2 separate regions of the Homo sapiens genome follow, and region 1 is linked to region 2. Evidence: fine-mapped expression QTL. A gene starts in region 2. The other region holds a variant in brackets. All regions are shown on one strand. Distances are from middle to middle. Region 1 holds the start of TMBIM4 (transmembrane BAX inhibitor motif containing 4). Region 2 holds the start of IRAK3 (interleukin 1 receptor associated kinase 3).

Region 1 (8,339 bases), 22 kb before region 2:
TCCCTGATGAGTACTGATGTGAAAATCCTCGACAAAATACTAGCAAACAGAATTCAACAGCACATTAAAAGGATTATAGATCACCACCAACCAGTATTCCTGGACTGTGAGGATGGTTCAATACATGAAAATTAATCAATGTAATCAGCACATTTACAGAATGTTGGGGGAAAAAGAAACATGATCATCTCAACTGATGCAGAAAAAGCTTTTGACAAAATTCCACAACCTTCATGATAAAAACACTCAATAAAGTAGGAATTGAAAGAAACTACCTCAACATATTAAAGGCCATTTTTCCACGGTAGTAGTTCTATGCAAACCGACCCCCAAATTCCAAGAAAGCTGAGAGGCTGGCAAATCCATTTTCTTAGAAAAAAACATTTAATAGGGACATAAGAACAGAAGCCATCTCTGTGTCTCTGTCTCAGGCAGAGAAAAGATAGTGGATCTACGGGCCATAAATCCCCTGACCTAGGGCTTATATACCAGAGGGAAAGGGTGATTCAGAAGGGATTGTAGGACAACTGAAGGAAGACAACATCAAGGTTGTTTTGACCTAAGGACAGGATTTATGGTAAGTACATGCTCTTATACAAGGAACCACAGATAAATTGGAAATCTTAGAGGGTTTCCTGGAACTGGGGTTAGTCAGAAGTCAACAAGGCAGATTAGCAACCAAGATGGAATTACTTTGGCCTCCACAGCCATATATGAAAAGCCCAGCACTAATGTCTTACTCAGTGGTGAAAAGCTGAAAACTTTTCATCTAAGATCAGGAATAAGACAAGGACGTTTGCTTTTGCCATTTCTATTCAACATAGTACAGGAAGTCCTCGCCAGAACAATTGGGCAAGAAAAAGAAATAAAAGGCATCCATATTGGAAAGAAAGGAGTAAAATTATCTCTGTTCACAAACATGACCTTACATGTAGAAAACCCTAAAGATTCCATAAACTGTTAGAATAAATGAATTCAGCAAAGATTCAAGATACAAAATTAAAATGCAAAATTAGTTACATTTTTATACACTAACAATGAGAAGGTTGGAAAGAAAGTTAAGAAAACAATTCCATTTACAACAGCATCAAAAGGAATAAAATGCTTAGGAATAAACCTAACCAAGAAGACAAATTTGAAAACTACAAAACACTGATGAAAGAAATTAAAGACAAAAATAAATGGAAACACATCCATCATTATACATTGGAAAACCGATGTTCATACTACCCAAAGTAACCTACTTTGGGTAGATTTAATGCAATCCCTATCAAAATCCCAATGGCATCTTTCACAGAAATAGAAAATCCATTCTAAAATGTATATGGAATGTCAGGGGACCCCAAATTGCCAAAACAATATCTAAAAAAAACAACAAAGTTGGAGATCTCACATTCCTGATTTCAAAACTTATTACAAAGCCACAGTAATCAAAACAGTGTGGTACTAACATAAAGACAGAGACATACAGACCAATGGAATACAACAGAGCTCCAATAATAAATCCTGGTATATATGATCCTTTTTTTTTTTTTTTTCAGACACGGTCTCCCTCTGTTGCCTAGGCTGGAGTGCAGTGGCACAATCACAGCTTGCTGCAGCCTCGACCTCCCAGGCTCAAGTGATTCTCCCACCTTGGCCTCCAAAAGTGTTAGGATTACAGGCGTGAACCACTGCACCCAACCTTGTGAATCTTCTTTAGTGGGGTATGTGTTCAAGTCTTTTGCTGTATTTTATTCAGGCTATTTGTCTTCTTATCGTTTAGAGTTCTTTTGTATATTTTGGATAACAGTCCTTTATTAGATATATCTTTTGCAAATATTTTCTCCCAGTATGTAGTCTATCTTATTTTCTTGACTTCTTCACTTTAAAATCAGGTTGTTTTTTGTTATTGAATGGTAGGATTTCCTTATGTATTCTGGATATTAGCCTCTTACAGGATATATCATTTGCAAATATTTTCACCCATTTTATGGGCCTTTTCACTCTGTTGAATGTGTTCTTTGATACACAGAAGTTTTAAATTTTGATGTCATCCATCTATTTTTACTTCTGTTGCCTGTTTTTGGTGTCACGCCCAAGAAATCCATTGCCAAATCCAATGTCCTCCTATGTTTTTATCTAAGAGTTTTATAGTTTTAGGTCTTACATTTAGGACTTCGATCTTTTTTGAGGTAATTTTTGTATACAGTTTAAGGTAAGCATCTAATTTCATTCTTTTGAATGTGGATATTCAATTTTCCCAACACCATTTGTTGAAGAGACTGCCCTTTTCTCATTTGATTGGCTGGGCACAGTGGCTTATGCCTGTAATCCCGGCACTTTCGGAGGCCAAGGTGGGTGGATCACTTGAGCCCACGAGTTTGAGACCAGCCTGACTAACATGACGAAACCTGTCTCTTCTAAAAATATAAAAAATTAGCTAGGCATGGTGGCATGTGCCTGTAGTTCCAGCTACTCAGGAGGCCGAGATGGGAGGATCACTTGAGCCTGGGACATTGAGGCTGCAGTGAGTTGTGACTGTACCACTGCACTCCAGTCTGAGAGACAGAGTGATACTTTGTCTCAAAAAAAAAAAAAAAAAAAAGAAAAAGAAAAAGAAAAAGGAAGAAGAAACACAAATGGCAAATAAGTATATGAAAAGATGCTCAACATTATAAGTCATTAGAGAATTACAAGTTAAAGCAACAAGGAGATGCCACTACACACCTATTAAATGGTCAAAATCTAAAACACTGATATCATCAAATGCTGACGAGTATGTGGAACCAACAAGAACTCTCATTCATTGCTGGTGGAAGTGCAAAATAGTACAGCCACTTTGTAAGACAGCTTGGTGATGTCTTATGAAACTAAACATTCTCTTACTATACAACACGGCAATTGTGCTGCTTGGTATTTACCCAAATGAGTTGAAAACTTATGTCCACACAAAAACCTGCACATGGATGTTTACAAAGCAGCTTTATTGACAAAACTTGGAAGCAGGCAAGATTTCCTTCAGTAGGTGAATGAATAAACTGTAATGCATCCAAACAATGGAATAGTATTCAGCACTAAAGAAAAATGAGCTATCAAGCCATGCAAAGACATGTAGAAAACCTTAAACGCATATTATAAGTGAAAAAGGCCAATTTGAAAGGTTACATGATAATTCCAACTATACAGCATTTGGGAAAAGACAAAACTATGGAGACAATAGAAGATCAGCAGGAAGGGAGGGATGAACAGGCAGAGCACAGAGGAAGGCAGTGAAACTATTCTGTATGATACTATCATGGTGGATACATGTCATTAA[A/T]CATTTGTCAAACTCATAGAATATACAACACTAAGAGCGAACCTTAACGTAAACCTTGGTCTTGGGTGATAATGAGGTGTCCAGTCTAGGTTCACTGATTGTAACAAACATACCACTCTGGTACAGAACGTTATTAGTGCAAGAGGCTTGGGGAAAAGCAGAAAGGGTATATAAGAACTCTGTTCTTTCTGCTAAATTTTGCTATGAACCTAAAATTGCTTTTAAAAAATTAATTGGGCAAAGGACTTGAATAACATTTCTCCAAGGAAAATGTATAAATGCCCCACACGCATACTTTTAAAATGTGCAACATCATTAAATCATTAGAGAAATGCAAATCAAAACCAAAAGGACATACCACCTCACACTCATTTGATGGCTATTTTCATTTTAAAAAGAAAGAAAAGAACGGAATGTGTTGGCAAGGATGTAGAAAAAGGTGAACCCTTGTGCACTGTTGCTGAGAATGTAAAATGATGTAGCCCCTATCAAAAACAGTATGGCCGTTCCTTAAATAATTAAAAATAGAACTACCACACAATCCAGCAATTCCACTTCTGGGTATATATTCAAAAGAATTAAAGCACGGTCTTGAAGAGGTATGTGCACACCTATATTCATGACAGCACTATTCAAAGTAGTCAAGAGGTAGAAGCAACACAAATGTCCATCAATGGATGAATAAACAAAATTTGGTATATACATACAAAGTACTACTACTGTCTTAAAAAGGAAATTCTGCAGCCAGGTGCAGTGGCTCATGCCTGTAATCCCAGGACTTTGGGAGGCTGAGGTGGGAGGATCGCTTGAGTCCAGGAGTTCAAGATCGGATGGGGCAACATGGAGAAACCCGTCTCTACCAAAAGTACAAAAAAATTAGCCAGGCCTGGTGACCTGCATTTGTAATCCCAACTACTCGAGAGGCTGAGGCGGGAGGATCACCTGAGCCCAGAAGGTAGAGGCTGCAGTGAGCAGTGATCTCACCACTGCACTCCAGCCTCGGTGGCAAAGCGAGACCCTGTCTCAAAAAAAAAAAAAAAGGAAATTCTGACATATGCCACAACATGGATGTATTTGAAGACATTATGCTAATTGAAAAAAGCCAACCACAAAAAAACAAATACTGATTGTATCTAGAGTAGCCAAATTCACAGAGAGAGAAAGTGAAATGGTGGTTCCAGGGACTGGGGGAAGGAAGGAATGGGGAGTTAATAGGTATAGAGTTTCAGTTTTGCAAGATTAAAAAGTTCTGGATATTGGATGGTATATAAGTTTAGTCTAAAGCTATGCCTTTAGATATTTTAAGTTCAGCCTAGGGGTTCTCGGTATATAGTGAACTATAACCTAGTAAACAGGCTGTAACCTACGCTTGAACCAATCACTGAGTTTCAGCCAAAGATGGCCACGTGTTCAAACCATGTTCAAACGGGCAAAAACCAAGCTGTAACCAATCAACTCTTTCTGTACCTCACTTCTATTTTCTGTACCTCACTTTACTTTCTCTCTCCATAAATTTTCTCCCACCAAGCGGCAGGACTCATCACTCTGAACCTTATTCTGGTTCCGGGACCTGCCCAATTCGCAAATCATTCTGTGCTCAAACTCCGTTAGATTTAATGTGTCTAAAGTTTTTCTTTTAACAGTGCACAACCATGTGAATAACTTAACACTACTGAACTATACACTTAAAAATAGTTAAGACGGTAAATTTTATGTTACCTGTATTTTACCACAATTAATTTTTTTTAAAAAAAAGCTGAGTTCACTGGCCAAAATAATTTCAAAATTCAATTCCAAAAATATAAATGCTAGGCACCAAGATTCTTGGTGCATCAGAACTATCTTCATCTTTCCTTTTCCAGAACAAGTTCTAGGCACTAAGATTCTTAGCACATCAGAACTATCTTCATCTTTCCTTTTCCAGAACAAGTTCCAGCTGCCTAAACAGGCTGAAAGTCTGGGGCTGTTTCGGCGATCAAATGACCAAACTAGAGCAGGCAATGGCTTCCACGTAGATGAAGCTGAGCATTTTAAATTCAAAAATTTCTGCCCATTGGCTACTACGTAATAACTTAAAACACAATTTAGACTGACTTAGGAAGCTTCTGTGTTGAGCAACTTCCTCAATAATCCTCAAAGACCTGTTGCATTCTGGGCCCTGCGGAGAGGAAATAGTGCCGTCAGGGAGCTTCCAGCCTAGCACAGGACGGTAAATATAAGCCTGTAACGCGAAACCCCACAGAACAAAAACATCAGGCCGTGGATTCCACTCGTGTGTACGTCAGTCACAGTGATCAACCGACTCATTTCCACGACGTTTCTTTTCACTTCAAGATGCCAAATTCAGGCTGCGGCGGTTTCCATCTGTCCCTTCCTACACCGCGGCGCCCGCTGGGGAGCCGGGGCGCACACAGGACAGCCGCAAGCCTTCTGGGCCTGGCGCCCTCCCACACCCGCTAGGAGGGGAGGAAGCGCCTCCCCGACTCCCTGAGGAGGGCGCCAGTCCTCTGGTACCCGGAGAAGGAGGGCCGGGAGCTCAGTGAGCACTCCCTGTGAGTCCCAGGAGATGGCCGCTCTCCCTCGGAAGCCGGAAGTCGGCTTCTAGAGGCCGAGCAGTGCAGACAAGCGGCTGGGAGGCACTGGAGAGGGGACAACGTACCCATTCGGATGTGCACGGTGGCGGAGGCCACGCTGCTGCCATAGTTGAAGTCGTCCTCGATCGAGGAGCGAGGGTACCGGGGGTCGGGGTCAGCCATGATGGCAACAGCACCCCTACCGGTCCCGGTCCACTAACCGCAACCGCCTCCTCCCCACTTCCGCGAGGAAGAGCCCAGCCCCAGCAAGCCGTGCGGCGTCGGCGGGCGAACACCGAGCGAGTCGATTTTCTCGCTTCAAAAATTCCAGCTGGGCGGAGAAAGCGGGGATGGCTCCGAGTTAGAATGGAAGAGAAAACGGTTTACATTCCCGGCGTCATCTGAAGTGAAACTTTTCTCAACACACTTTTTTTTTTTTTTTTGAGATGGAGTTTCACTCTTGTTGCCCAGGCTGGAGTGCAATGGCACGATCTCGGCTCACCGCAACCTCCGCCTCCCGGGTTCAAGCGGTTCTCCTGCCTCAGCCTCCCGAATAGCTGAGATTACAGGCGCCTGCCACCACGCCAGGCTAATTTTTTTATATTTTTAGCAGAGACGAGGTTTCACCATGTTAGCCAGGATGGTCTCGATCTGCTGACCTCGTGATCCGCCCGCCTCGGCCTCCCAAAGTGCTGAGATTACAGGCGTGAGCCACCGCGCCCAGCCTGAACACACTTTAAGTCCTTTCACCTTGGAGAGTTGCTAAAGTGATAGAACCCATGTCCCAGTCACCCATCCACTCAACAAATACCCATCTCATTCATCCACTTTTTCAATAATCACACCGAGGATGCATTTTTACTTCTATTATTTTAAAATAATAATAATACCTACATTTATTGAGCACTTTCTATAAACCAGGCTTTCTGAATGAAGTAATATTTAATCCTGAAAGGCAAGTAGGAGCCAACCAGAGAAAGAGCAGTGATGTAGGCTGGGCCTCAAGGGACCAACGTCTGCAAAGAGGGAGACGGTGAAGCTCAGCTGGTGTAGGGGACAGGTGGCAAAGAATGAGGCTGGATAGATAAACAAAGGCCAGATCATCCTAGGCCAGAAGTAGAATACATTGAAGAGGGCCATTACCAAAGGCAGAGAAAAGGGGATAAAGTTGTATTACTGTAAGAGAGAGATGATGGTGGCAAATACAATGGATTAGAGTGAATATTCATGATATTGTTGTCATTCCAATATAAAGAGGTGTAGACATACCCAGAGTAGTGTCATCCTAGGGTCCCTTGGAATTGTTTTGATGAGTTTACTCTGATCTACCCACATTGCCCAGTCCTCACCTTAACCACAACACCCGAACACTTAGCAAGTGGAATTCAGAACAGTTGTGGAACAGTCTATTCTAAACTAAATCCTTAAACTTGATGTTCTCAGAAGCCTTTGCCAAAAGAACTAACGTCACTTCCACAATGACAAGAAAAACAAAACAAAACAAAAAAACACTTTATCTTTTATGATTTTACAAACATTTTACAAGCATATCATTTTAATTTGTTTTTGTTGGTTTGTTTTGAGATAGAGTCTCAGTCTGTCACCCAGGCTGGAGTGCGGTGGCTCTATCTCGGCTCACAGCAGCCTTGACCTCCTGAGGTCAGGTGACCACCCCCGGGTAATTTTTTGTATTTTTTGTAGTGACGGAATTTCGCCATGTTGCCCATGCTGGTCTCGAACTTGGGCTCAAGTGATCCCCCTACCTCGACCTCCCAAAGTGCTGAGATCACAGGCGTTAGCCACTGTGTCCGGCCCCTCGTTTTAGTTTAGTTTGTTGAATGGATAGGTGAATGGGATATGGCCTCTATCTCTTTAGTCACTCTCCAGGTGAGAGGACTTAAAAAGCTTGCTGAGAAAAATCTGAGAAAAGTTTTACTTCAGATGACACTGGGAATGTAATCCGTTTTCTCTCCCATCCTAACCCGAAGCCATCCCCTCTTTCTCTGCCCCGCCGTAATAATGGAATTTATTATAGAGGACAAACTGGAGCTAAATTGGGAACCCACCTTTGTATTGACTAAAAACAGCATCAGCAAAGTTTGATCCTTTACCTCTTACCAGTTACAAAAAAAAATAAATTCCAGATAGATTGTGGATATAAATGTGAAAGGCAAAAACAATAAAACTTAAAGAAAATGATACAGGAGAATATGATTTGGAGGAAGGCAAAGATTTCTGAAACCAGATACAAAATAGCACTTAACTTCAAATGAAAAGATTGCCAAATTAAATTATATTAAAATTAGGAATTTCTAGTAATCAAAATATACCATAAGAGAGTGAAAAGGAAGCCATAGAGTAGGGGAAGATATCTGCTATACATATAACCTACCTAAGGCTCCTTTTCAGAATATAAAAACAATTGTTACAAATCCAGACCAAAAAAAGACAGTCAATAGAAAAATAGA
Region 2 (8,339 bases):
GCATAGTATGCTTGTCCAGTGGCATAAAGGACCCACTTGAGAGTCTTGGCCTTGATTTTAAATTGAGTTCAATTAACAGGATTTTGGTTTTCCACCCCGTTCCCCAGCTACACTCAGGTGCATGGGTGTGGAGCCAACTTAGAAAATTGGATTTAATCAGAATTGCAAACTTGCCAAGAGAGCTCAACAAAGTGAGAGAGGAGCAAGGGAATGTAGAGCATATGCAAAGGAGTGAATAAAATAATTGACCACAGACTTAATGGATAAGCAGAAAAGTCAGGATGTCAAGAGGGTGGAGCCAGAAAAGAGGCAGCAAGATTTTGGATTGGATATCTGGTGAAGGGACAGGATTGTTGGGGTCAGAGTACTAGAGGGAATGTGCTAGAAAGACAGGAGGTATGATCAGAGAGTGGATTCATGAAAGAAATTATAGATGGGATGCAGCTATTGATAATGACAAATTCTAGGGGACGCTCATGGGAGTAAGTGTCTGAAATGGAGCATTGGGTGGAGTACAATGTCACCAGAGAAGAGGAGTCAAGGAAATGAGAGGCCAGGGCATTGGAAAGATCACCATCTATTCTACATATATATATATATATATGTGTGTGTGTGTGTGTGTGTGTGTGTATGTTTTAATTTTGTTTCATCAACTTTTATTTTAAGTTCTAGGGTACATGTGCAGGATGTGCAGTTTGTTACATAGGTAAATATGTGCCATTGTGGTTTGCTGCACAGATGATCCCACCACCTAGGTATTAAGCCCAGCATCTATTAGCTATTGCTTCTGATTCACTGCCTCCCCCTACCCCCTCCCCTGACAGGCCCCAGTATGCATTGTTCCCCACCAAGTGTCCATGTGTTCTCATGGTTCAGCTCCCACTTATAAGTGAGAACATGCAGTATTTGATTTTCTGTTCCTGTGTTAGTTTGCTGAGGATAATGGCCTCCAGCTCTATCCCTATCCCTGCAAAGGACATGATCTCATTCCTTTTTATGGCTGCATAGTATTCCATGGTGTATACATACCACGTTTTCTTTATCCAGTCTATCATTGATGGGCATTTGGCTTGATTCCATGTCTTTGCTATTGTGAATAGTTATTCTACATATATTTTAAATCACTGAGAACTAAGATAGGATTAGTACTGGAGAGAGCAACAATGAGCCAGGAGCTAGAGAGTCTAAAAACGAGGAGAAGGAATTGGAGTCGGGGAGATCAGCAGTTGATAGCAACCATGATGATACAACCTGATGATATAAAAATCAAAACTCAAGACAGTTTTAGGAATAGGAAGGCAACATGGTCTGAGAACGACTGCCAACACTGAAAATACAGGAAATTTCACATACTCTAGCTTTCACTTAGGATCCTTGCTTCTTGGTAAATTACAAGATCTGGTAAAGCAGGCCTTTCTGATTGCTTCCCTCATCTGCAGTGATTTCCTGTTTCCTCTGAGTGAGTTTGCCTCCCTGTAGTAGCAATTCAAAAGCTACCAAATAATTAATGGCCTTTTGCCTCTGTTGCTCAGCATGTTCAGGTAGTCCCTTTAAGAGATGTATAGAGGGCCGGGTGTGGTGGCTCATGCCTGTAATCCCAGAACCTTGGGAGGCCTAGGGAGGTGGATCACTTGAGCCCAGGAGTTTGAGACCAGATTGAGCAACATGGGAAAACCCCGTCTCTACAAAAACTACAAAGGTTAGCCAGGCATGGTGGCATGCACCTGTAGTCCCAGCTGTACTGGAGGCTGAGGTGGGAGGATGGCTTGAGCCCAGGGGGTGGAAGTTGCAGTGAGCCGAGATCGCACCATTGCACCCCAACCTGGGCAATCAGAGCGACTAAAAAAAACAAATAAGAAAGAAAGGAGGGAAGGAAGGAAGAAAGGAGGGAAGGAAGGAAGGAAGGAAGGAAGGTAGGTAGGTGTACAGTGTGTACAGATTGACAATAAAACCTTGAACAACGGGATATCGAAATTCTTGCCCACACAGTATGGGCTTTGCCAGTTTTCAGATACATTTTTATGAAGTATTTTCGCTGGCAAAACCATTCAGGTAGGGGCATGAAATGATAGTGTTTCATCACTCGTGATCTCTAGGGGCAGCTATTCCAAAGACTACAATCTGAGAGGTTTCAAAACACCTCTGGTGTTTTCACTTGATGGCCACTGCCCACTCTTCCAGTCACTAAGGCTGAGATTTTTCTCACCACTTTCAAAACAACTTTTTGTCACTGGTAACATGCCTCATGTGACCTAGAAGATTTTGAAACAACAATTTTACTTAAACTCCGTGAAGATTTCAAAACAACAATTTTACTTAAACTCCATGTTGAAGGCAAAAAGGAAGATTGTGTGAAGCACTTTGAGGAAGGAAAAAATGATGGAACGATATTTCATCAAGGAAGCCCATGAGGAAGAAAATTTATTAAAACCAAGTAGGTGTATGGAGGAGAGGCCGCCTCGTGAAGAAAACGAACATAATTTTACGCTGATTTGGTGTCTTTTCTGTTTTTCTCTTGTTGGTATCTACATTCATCTTTTCCAATAATAATCCCATATATGTACATTTTTATCTGTTTAAATTCAGTAAAAGTTGGGAGGAAAATGTGTCAAAACTTTTAGAGTGTGATGGGCTGAGTGGGGTTGTGAGTGATTATCTTCTTTTTTCAGTTTTTTTCTGGGTTTTCCAAGTGTTCCTCGATGAACATGGATAGTTTTTCTGACAGGATAAAAAAGAAGTAGTCCGGGACAGTGGCTAACACCCCGAATCCCAGCACTTTGGGAAGCCGGAGGTGGGAGGATCGCTTGAGGCCAGGAGTTTGAAACCAGCCTGGGCAGCATAACGACACTCCCTCTCTACGAAAAACGAAAAAAAATAATTAGCCGGACGTGGTGGCGTGCGACTGTGGTCCCAGCTACTCGGGAGGCTGAGGTGGGAGGATCGCTTGAGCCCAATAGGTGGAGGCTCCGTGAGCTGAGATAGCGCCACTGCGCTCCTGCCTGGGCGACAGAGTGAGAACCTGACTCAAAACAAAGAAAAAAGGAAGAAAAGAAAGGAAGGGAAGAAGGAAGGAAGGGAGAAGCTTTCAAAAATAAACTTTTGTAAGAAGTAATGACACCGCTAGCCGTCCACACCAGGAGACCGCCTAGCCGTGGGGCACGGTGGGCTCCTGGGAGCTCTGAGCTCTGGGCTTTCTCCAGTTCGCACTCTGCTTGTCTCGGCAGCTCCGTCCCCACCGCAGAGGTGTGAAGGGGCGCAAAGCCAGCGAAGGGAGAACCCGGGTCGGGTAACCCCCAGGCCTGGCCAGGCGGACGCAGGGGCATCTCGGGCGAGGCGCGCCTTGCGTCACGTGGGCACCGCCCCTGCAGTGACCGGAGAACGGCGTGTTCCTAGGGCTCTGCTGCCGTCGTGGAAGCAGGATTTCCGCGGTTGTGTAACGGCCTGTCGCAGGCGTGCAGGGACCTGGACTCCGCCTCGTCCCCGGGGCTCGGGCAGCCGAGCCATGGCGGGGAACTGTGGGGCCCGCGGCGCGCTGTCGGCGCACACGCTGCTGTTCGACCTGCCGCCCGCGCTGCTCGGAGAGCTCTGCGCTGTTCTGGACAGCTGCGACGGCGCGCTGGGCTGGCGCGGCCTGGGTGAGTCGGCGGGGACCGGCCGGGGGCGGCGGGGGAGCCCAGCGCGCCGCGGGGCCCGCTCGGCGTCGCCCTGCATGGCTGGGGTCCCTCGCGGGGCTGGCGCGGCCTCCGGGAAGTTCCCGCCAGGGAGCCGGCCCCCTCCTTTCCTGGGTTGGATGCAGAGACTCCCTGGGACCCAGATGCCTTCCCTCCCTTCTCTTTCAAAGAATTTTGGGTATCGCTGCAAAGTCAAGGGAGCCGAGGCCTGGGAAAGACAGATAACCAGCGTGAAAGCATCTTCTGTTCGTCCGCGATGCCACCCTCACTGGGTTCGCAATGTATGATGTCTTCTGGTCCTTGCAAAATCACCCCAGAACATCATTTTAGTATTGAGACATTTTTAGAACTTTGAGATACTTATCCTTTGGTGTTTTCAATGCATCCCTAAGCCCCTAACTTAATTACAAGTGAAATGCTAAAGTAAACTACGGTTTGCAATGAACGCGGCTCCTAATTTTCTTAATTAAATCTTATTTACCCAATTTCGTTGAATGAAGGTTTATGCTAAAGGGTGGCTTTTTATTTTAATCTAAAAAAATTGGCTTCAGAACTGTATTTTATGCAGACATTGGAAAGTTGAGCAACTGCCTGCTGGAAGTGTTGAGTGTAGCCAGAGATAATTCGGACAAAAATCTTCGTTTTGTTAAGTACAGGCATTTTTGGTTAGATTTGATATTCCACAATGTCATGTTTAATGTTTATTGAAAAGAATCATGATTATGTCAAAATAACTTAGCTTTAATGGTCTGAAATAGGATTTTTCTTACCAGGACTAGCAGAAGGCCTAAGAGGAGAGTTTTCTTTGTTACTGATGAACAGTATGGTGACAGTCTTTGAATTGTAGCAATGGGCTTCTGGTTATACAAAAAATGTTTATATATTTTAAGCTCTGTAATTTTAAGTTATGGCCCTTAAGAAAAAAAAAAAAGTCTGATTTCTAGAAAACGAGATTTCCAGTGTGCATTTGAGGGATTTTGAGGGATAAGGTCACTTCCCCATCAGATCTTTTTGAGATGGATTTTGGCGTGGACAGTATTTATACCCGTTGATTTCCTAGAGTTACTGACTTTGAGAAAGAAAAGTGTTTTTAGTCCAGTTTAATGTTGGTGAATGGGGCCAGGTGGGTGTGGTAAATTAGTGAGGCAGATTATTCTCTCTCTTTCTGTTGATAGCATTGAAATCCAGATATTCATGCTTTACATGGCTTGTCTCATATAACTTCTCCAATTACTCTGTGAGTCATTATCATCGCCAGTGTTTTTTTAACAGGTCAGGAAACTGGTACAAATTGGTTAAGTAACTTGTTCAGGTTCACCAGCTGGAAATGGAAGAGCCAGGATCTGAACCATGGTAGTCTGGATCCAAGGCTTATGTCCTTAACCCCAGCTACTCTACACTTCTCCCCTTACTGCTGTGTTCTTTCTGGCCACATCTAACAGCCTCCCTAAAGTACAGACATTTCTGGCATCAAAGAACAATTCAGTGATCCATTTCAAGCATGCAGCCCTATTTTCCTAGTGGTGAAAATGAATGAGGACCACCCAAATGAGAACAAACAAAAGCTATTTTTTTCAAAGCAAGGGAGCCAGCACCATTGCTTGTGTTTGGCAGAGACTCAAAAGCAGACAGAGGATGGAGGAGGGTGGGAGAAGAAGGCTTCAGCTGTGTCCTGATTGGAGGCTGTTGATATGGGGAAGCTGTAGTTGAGCTACCTAAAAGGGGGTATTTTGTGTGTTTGTTTAGGGGTACATAATTGGCTTTCTCTGGTTGGCCCTAAGTTGGAAGTAGGAGCAAAAATTGAGGAAGTGGTCAGTAATTATTCAAGTCCTGGCCATTTGAGACAGGTTGCTACAGGGGTTCTTGTTTGGCTGCCTGGGCTAGTTGCTACAGTTTAACCCAGTTACTGATAGTTTAACTTGTTAGATACTGTAGACGGTAGGTTGGTTTCTTGGACTGGTTGATGTACATTGCCTGCAGAGTTCTATTTTTATATATAAGCTGGCCATTGTCCCTTTGTGTATTCATTCTCTCACAGGGAAAGGGTCTAAAATGTTTACTCCATGATACTTCAGCTGTAATTCATTGTGCAGGTGGTCATGCCTACTGACTGCCTGGACTACTGAGCTGGCCCTGACCAGGTGCTGCACAAGTTCTTGGCTCAGCAAGAAGGCAAGGCTAGCCCAGTTCAGGGTGTTGAGGCAACTGCCTGTGCTAAACATGCCGAGTTTTCCTGTGGGCACAGCGAAGGGAGAAAGAGGGGAAGAGGTGCAGGTAGGGAAAACTTGACCTTCGAGAGGGGAAGGAGAGTGACAGAGGACTGAATCAAAGAGGCAGTCCTTTGTATGCTCAGGACAGCTGACAGCCCAAGCTTAAATGTAGAAAACAACTGTAATATACTAAGTAAAGCTCTCTCGAGCCGATCGTGATTCTTGATGACGGTGAGTGTCAGGTTATGTTTACAAAGGCAGCTCATATAGCAGCCTATATGATATGACCAGTGTGTGCAGGATAAGGTAAGCCAGTCATTCACAAACACAAATCACCTATGCAGTCTTTTAAATACACAGATGCAGGTCCCACTCCTAGAGCTGCTGATTCAGGAAGTCTGGGTTGAGGGTCCAGCTTCTTTCATTTTTTGTCAAGCCCCAGGAGTGAGTCTGAGGCACAACCTGATTGGTAAGCCATTGCTTAGGCCAAATTCTCTTTTTTAATAGTGTCTTCATATAACAGATATTTTACTACATTCTTTCATTACTTCATTTAATTACTTTTATTTTTAAACATATTCTACATAGTACTCTTCAAATCACTTTTGTCAAGTATTGTTATTAAAAATAATGTAATCACAAGATAATATATTCTGTGGTTATCATTGATGACTTTATGGCTTTTAGTGAAAGCAAGAGCCCAAAAGCCCAAATGAAATATGTTGTTTACGTTACAGACATGATAACGTAGTACATACAGAACCTCTGGAGACAACTCATCTGATTACATTACCATAGATTGGTATTTAAATTAAATTATTTGGAGCAGCTGACACCGTAAAAACCTCTCAACACTTACGATGTACTGAGAAACGCTTTTTGCAAATGATATATAATAGGCTGTATTCAATTTTCTTCCTCTCAAGAAAGAAAAGGGAAATTATTATATAAATCATTAATAATTACTTTAAAAATTAAATGTAAAATCACATTAAGTGTGCATTTGTATATTCAATAAAGATTCAAAATAATAGTAGTAATAATAATAAAGCTACCTCCTGTCAAGGCTTACTATTGGCCATTGTGGTAAGCATTTTACATGGATTATCTCATTTACTTATTACAACAATTCTATCAGGTAGACACTCTTCCTATTTCCATTTTATAGATAGGTGAACTGATTCTCAGAGAATTTAAGTAACTTGCCTTGAGTCACAGTCTTCTAAATGGCACACTAAGATTCTAACCAGATGATCAGACTGCATATTCTATGTTCTTTTTTTCTTTTCTTTTCTTTCTAAATTTTAAATAGATGTGTTTTTTTATGTTATTATTATCTTTTTTTTGAGATGGAGTTTCGCTCTTGTTGCCTAGGCTGGAGTGCAATGGCGCAATCTCAGTTTACCGCAACCTCCGCCTCCCGGGTTCAAATGATTCTCCTATCTCAGCCTCCCGAGTAGCTGGGATTACAGGCATGCACCACCATGCCCGGCTTAATTTTTTTTTGTATTTTTAGTAGAGACAGGGTTTCTCCATGTTGGTCAGGCTGGTCTCGAACTCCCGACCTCAGGTGATCTGCCTGCCTCAGCCTCCTAAAGTGCTGGGATTACAGGCGTGAGCCACCGCGCCTGGCCTAGATGTATTTTTTTAAGAACAGTTTTAAATTTATGGAAAAGTTTAGCAGATAGTAGGAAGAGTTCCCAGATACTCTACATCCTTAGTACACTCCGCACCCAGTTTCCCATTATTAACATCTTGCATGAGTGTGCTGCATTCATTACAATATTGACACATTATTATTAACTAAAGTCCATGCTTTATTCAGACTTCCTTTGCTTTTACCCGATGTCCTTTCTCTGTTCCAGGATCCCATTCAGGATACCACATTACATTTATTTGTCGTATCCTCTGGCTCTTCTTGGCTGTGATGGTTTCTCAGACTTTCCTCGTTTTGAGGAGTATTGGTTGGAACTTATCCACTATTTTGTAGACTGTTCCTCAACTGCGATTTGTCTGATGTTTTTCTCATGATCAGACTGAGGTTATGGATTTGGGGGAGGAAAACCATAAAGTACTGACCTGTATCCAGGGTCGGTACTATTTACAGGAGTTATCACTGCTTATGTTAACCATGGCTGAGATGGCATCTGTCAGATATCTGCCCTGTAAAATTACTTCACTTCCCTCTCTTTCTGTTTCTTACTTTTTGGAAGGAAGTCACCATATGCAGTAGAGCCTGCTTTTTTTGTGTTGCTGTTGTTGTTTTGGAGACGGGATCTCACTCTGTCATCCAGGGTGAAGTGCAGTGGCACAATCACAACTCACTGCAGCCTCGACCTCCCAGGCTCAAGTGATCCTTCCCACCTCAGACTCCCAAATAGCTGGGACTGCAGGCACATGCCACCACACCTGGCGAAGTTTTTGTATGGATGGGGCCAGGCTGGTCTCAAACTCCTGG

Evidence for each region. PIP is the estimated chance that this variant, and not a neighbour inherited with it, causes the effect.
Region 1: its variant is fine-mapped to the expression of IRAK3 in whole blood (TOPMed, PIP above 0.99).

Annotation. Positions count from the first base shown.
Region 1 is chr12:66,163,898-66,172,236 of GRCh38, forward strand. It overlaps TMBIM4 (transmembrane BAX inhibitor motif containing 4), which reads right to left and starts at 6,099. Exons shown (of 7, transcript NM_016056.4): 1 at 5,958-6,099. The coding sequence starts at 6,054. RefSeq lists enhancers at 5,251-5,350, 5,833-6,357, 6,001-6,080. The variant A/T (reference allele first, on the strand shown) is at 3,299.
Region 2 is chr12:66,185,798-66,194,136 of GRCh38, forward strand. It overlaps IRAK3 (interleukin 1 receptor associated kinase 3), which reads left to right and starts at 3,417. Exons shown (of 12, transcript NM_007199.3): 1 at 3,417-3,635. The coding sequence starts at 3,503. RefSeq lists silencers at 3,522-3,571, 3,592-3,751.